2 separate regions of the Homo sapiens genome follow, and region 1 is linked to region 2. Evidence: fine-mapped QTL for protein levels in blood plasma. Region 2 holds a variant in brackets. A gene starts in the other region. All regions are shown on their forward strands.

Region 1 (5,523 bases), not on the chromosome of region 2:
AGACTATAAGATAAAAACCATTTACAACACTCGATCCATTTCTGAAATGTTTATACAAATTGGATATGAGAATGAGATCTGTCACCCCTCAATTTCAAAGAAATGTTCTATCTTAAACTGTTCCGTGGCCCCATATTCTCTTGCCAACTATCTTTGCAACAATGATATTCTCCATTGCACTTTTTTCAAGCATAAGAAAGGAAACTGTCCACCAGCATTAAGTGATTAATTATATATGCATGTTAAAAGTATATGCATATGCATGTGTGCATATTAAAAACTACAAGTGAGCACCTTAAAGATGCTCACCTTCATAGAGACAAAGTACCTTGCTAAGATAAGAAGGCTTAAAGGCAGACTGGTGGTGACAACTAAATCAGAGACAGCAGGCAAACATGCACAGCATCAATAAATCCTCCTGCCATCTGAATATATTCCACTACATAAAATTAACATTAGTTTTACTGCTAACAACTTACTAACTGGTGATTGGAAACCAGTCAAAGCTTCTCTGTTTTGTAGTATTGCCACAGTATAGCGATATACAGATCTGACAGTTTGGAAGCAGCAATTATATCTATATACTATTTCAGCATGAACCATATTAAGAGTTAATGAGAACTTCAAGTTGGACACTTAAATTTTGCAGTAAAAACAAAGCTGGAAGATGTGTACTGAATGTGTGAGAAGGAGTTAGGAACTTGTAAAAGAGAAAGATGCATATTTTGCAAGCAGAGAAAAGAGGCTATTAGTTTGTAATAACTGGGCATATATGAAATGTGACAGTGATAAAATTGAACATAAATCAGCAAAGGAAAGGCTACAGCTTGTTGTCCACGGCTAATCTTCTCTCTACTTGAAAGTGCTCAGCACTTTGCTCCTATTAAATGCTTTGTTGCCATTTTAAGGTACACTTGGGCTATCTGGTTGTGTTGTGAAGAATATTTAAAAGTTAGAGTTCTCCTGGAGAAATGAACTTAACATCTTCATGTCTTCGGGCTGACATTAATGACATCCAGACAGTGAGGAGGACATGAGGCTGAATGTTATTGTCTGTGGCGGCCACAGCCTGAATCTATTACCCTGCATATCAATTAGACACTCGGTGTCTCGGTTATCCTACTTTTAGACAGAAGGGCCACTTGCATGCATTCAGCCTTACTATTCATCTTATAAAAGTGTACAGCAATTTGCTATATTTCCCTGGTGGATACTGATCATTTTGGGGGTCCTCAAACCACATGTTTACTCTCAACTAATTTCAAGCAAGTATTCAAAGACCAATAATTCCCAACCCCACTCTTTATTATTTGCAAGCCAACATCCTTCCATTTAGTGAGGCTGAACCCGATCAGATTTCTTTAATGAACATTCACAAGGACCTCTCCCATTGCAACCAGTGACATGCACGTATTAGGCATCTTACAAATGTTGCACAAATTGATATGAATATTAACCTGCAGTCAACTTTCTCCCTAGTCCCATGACCCACAAATGGTTAAAACCATGAACCAAGATGCCAGGTTACTGCAGCCAAAGTCAGGTTACTGTTAGTAAACACATCTAGCAAAGCAAAAGTAACACATTTGACTTGATATTGAGATATAAGCTCTTTCAAAGGCAATTACTCCTCCTTTCAATCTCTGAAGGGCTCTGACTCATTGTTCTGATTAATTCCTGTTTTTAATCTATTTACAGATCAGGATTCTTTTTCAGCTAGTGTGATATTCATCTCTGTGGGGGTAGACAGAAACCACAGCACGTACAGTCTTCCTACTTTTTTTTTTTTTTTTTTAGTTATTCTTGCTTAATCATTTTAAAATTATTTCTGGATTTACCTACTCACCATATGAGCTGGGGTTTCTGACCTCCCTCCTGCACATCACGCCCTCCTTGTCTGTTGCTTTTTCTAGCTCTGTTTCCCTGCATCTTGGGTTGAGGTTAGCAGACTGGCTACCCCTTTCCCAGAGCTCTGTTCCCCTTTCTTTGCCTCTGAAAGGAGGTTTGCTGTCCTTACCGTAGCGGACACCGTTTGTTATTAAATAATACCTCTGGACACATCTCCTTGTTGTAAATCAATAAGCAAATGCAATACAGGGAAAGACATACGGATTGGAGAGTTGTACGGAGCTTTGCACAAGCAGAGCCCAGAAGCTGTTCGTTCATTTCACGCGACCAGAAAAAATTCCTGATGGTGCTATGACCCCGGTGCCCGGTTGGCACTTCCTGGTTTTCTGTTTCTGCTATTCTGTTACCTGCTTGGTTAGCTTTGCAGGCTCCTCAGAGAACACAGAAACAGCTGAAACCAGGGTCCGAGCTCAGGAAACCTGGACTACAGCGCAGCAGGGTAAACCTGACAAATAAACGCGACGGGGAACTCCGTCCCAAGCTGCTGATCTGTGAGTAGAAAGAAAATGCAGCTTAGAAAACTTGATCGCTAATGAAAGAATCGGCCACCCTAGCTTTCTCAGACCTGGGAATCTGGGCCTGGGGGGTGGTTCCAGCAAAGAGGTATCACATTCCCACATTCTGCATCATGCACCTGGAATTGTTCCTCAGCATCCCTAGGAGTCACAACTTTTTTCCCCCAACTTTAACTGGTCAAATCCACTGCGCGAAGGGCAAGCCCAAGGGACCTACCACTCAATTTTCAGCGCTCCAGCTGGGGATGCAGCCTTCCCAACCCGAAACCAATCCTCGCCCCAGAAGGGGAAAAATAATCTCCCCAGAGCAAGTCCGATGAGAGAAGCATCTTTTATTCTCGACCCGTCAGGTGCATTTCCCTGCAAACAAACTTCGGGGCTGAGGAGCCATGAAGCCAGGGCGTAAAGTTTGCCCTGGCAGGTGGCTCATCCCTGTGGCCCGGCCGGCGCCAGGAGTCGGGCATCCCGGACTTACCTGGTCTCTGCAGCTCGCCAGACGCCCGCCCCGACGGCCCACTCGCCGCCGCCGCCGCCGCCGCCGCCGCCGCCACCGCCGCCGCCGCAGTTAGTCCGGGCCCGGGGGGCCGCCGTGCGCGCCCGCGTAAGCCGCCGCCGCCGCAGGCGCAGCACCCTCGTCCGCACGGTTCCCGGCCCAGTCCACGGCGCCAGCCCGCCCGCCGCTGCCACCGCCGCCGCCGCCAAGCGCCAGGCTGCTGTGGCTGCTGCCGGCGCCTAGCGAGCACTGCCCGTGCCTCCGCCACTCCGGCTCCGGCTCCGGCTCCGACGCGGACGCTGGAGGGAGGGGAGACCGGGCGGACTGGAGGGAGGGAGGGGCGGGGAGCGCGGCGGAGCAGCCAACTGGGTCCCGAGCCTCGCGTCTGCGGCGCCCCCAGCGCCTCTGCGCCGGCCGGACCCCGCGCGGCCCTGCGCTCGGCCGCGTGCACCCACGTGTGTCCGGCCTCCGCAGGGCCCTGGGCGGCGGCGCGGGCTGGGCGGCGGTCACCGTGTCACCTCCGGGTGGCCTCGTGCCACGCAGTTAGGGCCCTCGGAACACGGGGTTAAGGCAGGAATTCCACTTCTAGAAAAGCCTCCTGCAGCTGCGCTCCCACAAGTGCGCAAAGATTGCCAATTTTAATATTAAAGCGGATAATTATTAAGGGCTCACTAGGTAGCAGGTCGTGGACTGCGCTAAATCAATTAGTTCATGCAGTCCCCAGAGCAACCTGGATCTATTATTATTCCCGGATTTAGTGATGAGGAAATTGGTTTGCTTAAAGTTTCAATGAGTCAGTTGTGAGAATAATCGCAACTATATTCTGTCAAGGACCCTGTGAAGTAGATCTTACCACCTTTATTTGCCCAAGTATACACACAGTGGTGGGTTGGAGAACCCGGACTTGAATAAGCCTGTTGCAGTCCTGAGCCTTTGCGCTGAACCGCTGGTGACTTACTTCCAGTCAAACCCGTGCAAACACTGCAACTTTAGTTGTACGAAAAACAGTTGGGAACAACCTACCTGTCCTTCATTAGGAGAGTGGCTGATAAAATACAGTGGAGACATACAGCGGCAGAGAGAAAGGTGCATCTACTAGTATTGGCATAAATGACCTCCAAGAGGTATCCTTAGAGGCTGGGCGGAGGTGGGTCACTCCTGTAATCCCAGCACTTTGAGAAGCCAAGACAGGTGGATCTCTTGAGCCCAGGAGTTTGAGACCAGCCTGGGCAACATAGGGAGACTTTGTCTCTGCAAAAAACAAACAAACAAAAAGTTTAAATTAGGTGGGCGTCATGGCACGCACCTGTTGTCCCAACTACTTGAGAGGTTGAGGTGGGAGGAGCACTTGAGGGATCACTCGAGCTCAGGAGGTGGAAGCTGCAGTGAGCCATGATTGTGCCACAGCACTCCAGACCAAAAGACTGAGGGAGACCCTGTCTCTAAATAAATAAAAAAATAAATAAACGGTATTGTTAGGAGAACTTGGGACATGTACTGTTGATCGGCACAGGAAAGTTGGTACCTGTACCGTTTTTGTGCTTACAAGCACTTACACACACACACACACACACACACACACACACACACGCACGCACCCTTTTGTGTGTATGTATCCATATTTATGCATTCACAATTTCTGAAAGGATGTCTAAGGATACTGTTAACAATTGTTAGTCCTAGTGAGTGAGACTGAAATTGGAGCAGAGGAGACTTTATACTTTTCATTTTATAATTCTCTGACATTGTTTTTAAAATGTATCACGTTGTCCCTTCATATTAAATAATCTAGTCACATTTAATTAGACTTGACAGTTTATGGCCCTGTTTCCTCTCCTTGATCCTCTCCCTGTGATTCCTGCAGATGGAATGAAGCAACACCTCATCAAGAGAAGCAACCTGGGCAAACCAGGCCTGGTTTAACTGCACTTTCTCACGTTTGATCATTTTCTCAAGAGATACGTGCGTGGTCCTCTGCAATTCAGAATGAAATCTGAACTTCTGGAAAAACTCTCCTAGAGGGGGTTTGAGGACAAGAGGTAAGACCCAGGTCAGTCAGATGCAAGGTGCCGCTCCCTACAGCAAAGTCAGCATGTAGGCCCCCTGCATTTCCAATTGCCACAAAGAAGTTGCTTGGTACTTTGGAAGACTGAGGTGGGAGAATCCCTTGAGCCCTGGAGTTTGAGACCAGCCTGGGCAATACAGTGAGACCGCCTCTCAACAAAAAATTTAAAAATTAGCTGAGCATGATGGTGTGTGTCTGCAGTCCCAGCTGCTTGGGAGGCTGTGGCAGGAGGAGATCGCTTGAGCCTGGGAGGTCCAGGCTGCAGTGGGCCATGATTGAACCACTGCACTCCAGCCTGGGTGACAGAGCAAGACCCTATCTCAAAACAGAACAACAACAATAACAAAAAAAGAAATTGCATGAATGGCTTGACCAGGTGATTTTTCCCTAGTCCCCCTTACTCTATGAGCATACAACAGGATTCTTGAATACATTAGGGAACTTCTGGCCACATTTGCCCTCTCTCACTTTATCAGGAAACTGCTCATCCCTACAAGAGTAATAGCTGGATTACAAAAAATTCCGGGGTTATTTATGTTTTA
Region 2 (3,619 bases):
TAAAAAATAAAGCACCTGCAGCAATCTTATAAGAATGCTTGGGAAAAACAAAGCAGCCTGGACTGCTTCTTCTCATTTCAGCATCTTTTTTATGCAAAATTTTCTAAAATAAGTAATTTATATATGTAATTATAGCCTATTTTGTTTAAAAATAATATGTAAGGCAGATACAAACAACTTCATTGCTCTTTTGGGTACAATTTTTTTTTTGAGACAGACTTTCGCTCTTGTTGCCCAAGCTGGAGTGCAATGGCGCGATCTCGGCTCACTGCAACCTCCACCTCCTGGGCTCAAGCGATTCTCCTGCCTCAGCCTCCTCAGTAGCTGGGATTACAGGCGTGCACCACTACGCCAGCTAAATTTTTGTATTTTTAGTAGAAACAGGGTTTCAGCATGTTAGCCAGGCTGGTCTCGCACTTCTGACCTTAGGTGATCCGCCCACCTCAGCCTTCCAAAGTGCTGGGATTACAGGCGTGAGCCACTGCGCCCGACCTCGGGTACAATTTTAAAAGAATTAGAAAAGATCAATAGGAAAAAAAGAAAATGAGACCGGGTGCAGTGGTTCATGCCTGTAATCCCTGGACTTTGGGTGGGTGAGGCAGGAGGACTGCTTGAGCTCAGAAGTTCAAGACCAGCCTGGACAACATGGTGAAACCCTGTCTCTACAAAAAACACAAAAATTAGCTGGGCGTGGTGGCACATGCCTATGGTCCCAACTGCTCAGGAGGCTGAGGTGGGAGGATCACCTGAGCCTGGGGAGGCTAAGGCTGCAGTGAGCCATAACTGCACCACTGCACTCCAGCCTGGACAACAAAGTGAGACCCTGTCTCAAAAAAAAAAAAAAAAAAAAAAAGAGAAAGAAAAAGAGAAAATTAAAATACCAAAATCACAGATTTGTGTTTTGTTGTCCATGGTATTTATTCCTAAATTACTCTTATTTTCACTGATCCTTAGCAGCAGATACGAGTGTGGAAGCATTTTTTTTCATCTTTGCATAAACAGTAATTCAAAGGACGCTTTGTTTTGATTCCTCAACTATTATCCTATGCCAATGCATTCTGTACATATCTCTCCATCTCCACAGGGACTGAGATAAGTTAGTTGTTTATGTACTAAGAATAAAGTAGAGCATTATGCCTGCTTGATAGAAAAAGCACAATAGTGAACACAATATGATATTAATCAAATGGAATCCAATTACTAGATTATAGAACCACATATGAAAAGATTCAGCTCTATCAGCAGTGAATTTCCTATCTCCTTTATAACAGACTGTGCCCCCTTTTTAATGTTCAAGGTCTAAATATAAATTCTTGATTTCCTAATGCTTATCTTCCCCAAAATAGTAAAGTGTGAAATAGCTTCACT[G/A]AAAGTCTGAAGAGACTTAGCATGTCATGACTCCACAAGAATGCTTTACATTTCTTATCAATTTGTTCAGACTCTATTTTATATAAACCTCACCTTTCCTATATCCCACTTGATTGAATCATAGCAAATATAAACTGATGTATTATCCTATACCCATGATTTAAGTCTAACAGGTTTGGATGTGACTTTTTTTCCCCCAAGCACATCCACCCACAGTGGCTTTATTCAGTCACATCCCCACCCCCACAGCTCCCTCCACCAGGCAGACAGGTGGGAGGCCACGCCACGGCAGTACCCGGGGACCATGGGCCAGCAAAGGGTCCCGGCCAGAGGGCACCAACCCCAGGAAGACACGGTCCCCACCCGGAGCTTCCCTGGGCTGCCTCGGCCCCTGAGCCCACCCTGAGGATCTGTGCTTTGACTCTGACAGGGAGCAGCAGGAAGCCGCCAGCCCACTGACCCCCTGGGTATCCTTGGAAGGCACACGGTGGAGTGGTGACTCCAGCTCCTGAGCGGCGCTTCCTCAGCTCCCATGCCCCTGCATGGTGCTGGGCTCGGCCCAAGATGTCCAACCGCAGTCTGGCTCTGACAAGGATGGTCACGGCCTAGCCACAGGGGCGGCTTTGCCCATCAGTCCCCCTGGGGCAGCAACTGGATCCCGGCAGGGGCAGAGCCGGGATGGGCCCTCTCTATGGGCTTAAGATCAATGTAGGCGGAGGCTCACTGGGCCAAGGCCAATGAACCCACTCATAGGAGCCCTCTGAGGGCACCGGTAGGGGGTCTGCTAAGGGCAGGTGCCCGTGGCCTGGAACCTGCCTTTGCCAAGGCACTGAAAGCGACTCTTAAACTCTATTAAGAAACTAATGATAGTATGTAGGAAGGCTTTGGGAAAAAATGTGGCTTCAAGGCCGGGTGTGGTGGCTCACGCCTGTAATCCCAGCACTTTGGGAGGCTGAGGCGGGAGGATCACGAGGTCAAGAGATCGAGACCATCCTGGCCAACATGGTGAAACCCCGTCTCTACTAAAAATACAAAAATTGGCTGGGCGTGGTGGCGTGCACCTGTAGTCCCAGCTACTCGGGAGCCTGAGGCAGGAGAATTGCTTGAATCTGGGAGGCGGAGGTTGTGGTGGCCGAGATTGTGCCACTGCACTCCAGTCTGCCAATAGAGCGAGACTCTGTCTCAAAAAAAAAAAAAAAAAAAAAAAAATATGGCTTCATGCTACTTAATTCAAATTATGAAATATAAGTGTCTTGTTACAAAAATACATTTAAATGAAGAAAATATAATGGACTCCATTAAAAACAATTACCAAAAATATATATATTGAAAGGGAAATCAAAGTTGGCTTGGATAAAGATAGGGAAGAATCACCATTCTTAATTTTTTCCATGTAATATTGCACCTTGTCCCTATAACGAACAAATGCACTAACTTAAAAAATCTAAGTGATCCCTCACTGCTACATTTTTCTGTGCAAAATTTTCAATATGGCAGAGAATTTGATAGTAGGCTTCCCTTTAGAGCTGGTTTCTGCCTGCTAATCTCTCTTAAACTGCCTCAGTCTTCCTTTCCCCTTTCCGTTAATTTTTAGGTGACTTTGGTTTCCCCTCACTTCTTCTCTCAAACTATAAAAGAAAGAAAAATTACTGAACACTTCTGAGTTGATTCTTTTCTTTTTTCCTTGAACCTCTATAACTTACATCATGCTGTTCCTTTAATATAGATACTAAAGGAATATATGTGTGTGTGTGTGTGTGTGTGTGAACACACACACACTTTTTAGAGACAGGGTCTCACTCTGTTGCCCAGGCTGGAGTGCAGTGGTGCAACCATGGCTCACTGCAGCCTCAAACTCCTGGACTCAAATGATCTTCCCACTTCAGCTTCCTGATTACCTAGGATTACAGGTGCATACCACCACGCCTGGCTAATTTTTTGTAGACAATCTTGCTGTATTGCCCAGGCTGGTCTCAAACTCCTGCTCTCAAGTTATCCTCCCACCTCAGCCTCCCAAAGCTCAGCCTCCCAGGCATAATCCACCGTGCCCAGCTTTTTAAAAATATTTTTTTTAACTTATGTTGCATATGGCCACAATCATAGTTAAAAAGAGATCAACATAAAAAAATTACCAGACCAAATGGCATGAGCCACACTAATACACTGAAATACTAATAGTCCTCATACAAGTCAAATTATTCTGGGCCATCAGTGAAAAAAAGAATTTAAGAATGAATGATCAAAGTTAATT

Alleles and levels. Positions count from the first base shown, and alleles are read on the strand shown. Strength reflects both the effect of a copy and how common the allele is.
In carriers of allele A in region 2, the plasma level of the protein whose gene starts at base 3,167 in region 1 tends to be higher than with G alone (moderate association).

What was found. PIP is the chance, under the fine-mapping model, that this variant and not a neighbour inherited with it causes the effect. The UK Biobank Pharma Proteomics Project read protein levels with antibody pairs (Olink). The fine-mapping took linkage between variants from a reference panel, not from the people measured, so its PIPs are less certain.
Region 1: it holds the start of CNTN3, and the variant in region 2 is fine-mapped to the plasma level of the CNTN3 protein (UK Biobank, PIP above 0.99).

Annotation. Positions count from the first base shown.
Region 1 is chr3:74,611,493-74,617,015 of GRCh38, forward strand. It overlaps CNTN3 (contactin 3), which reads right to left and starts at 3,167. Exons shown (of 23, transcript NM_020872.3): 1 at 2,899-3,167. LOC105377166 (a long non-coding RNA gene) reads left to right here and starts at 2,311. Exons shown (of 3, transcript XR_007096257.1): 1 at 2,311-2,399; 2 at 4,781-4,955.
Region 2 is chr15:42,985,160-42,988,778 of GRCh38, forward strand. All of the region lies in intron 35 of UBR1 (ubiquitin protein ligase E3 component n-recognin 1), which reads right to left. Among named protein-coding and RNA genes, the nearest start is that of TTBK2, 66 kb to the left of the region's middle. The variant G/A (reference allele first, on the strand shown) is at 1,369.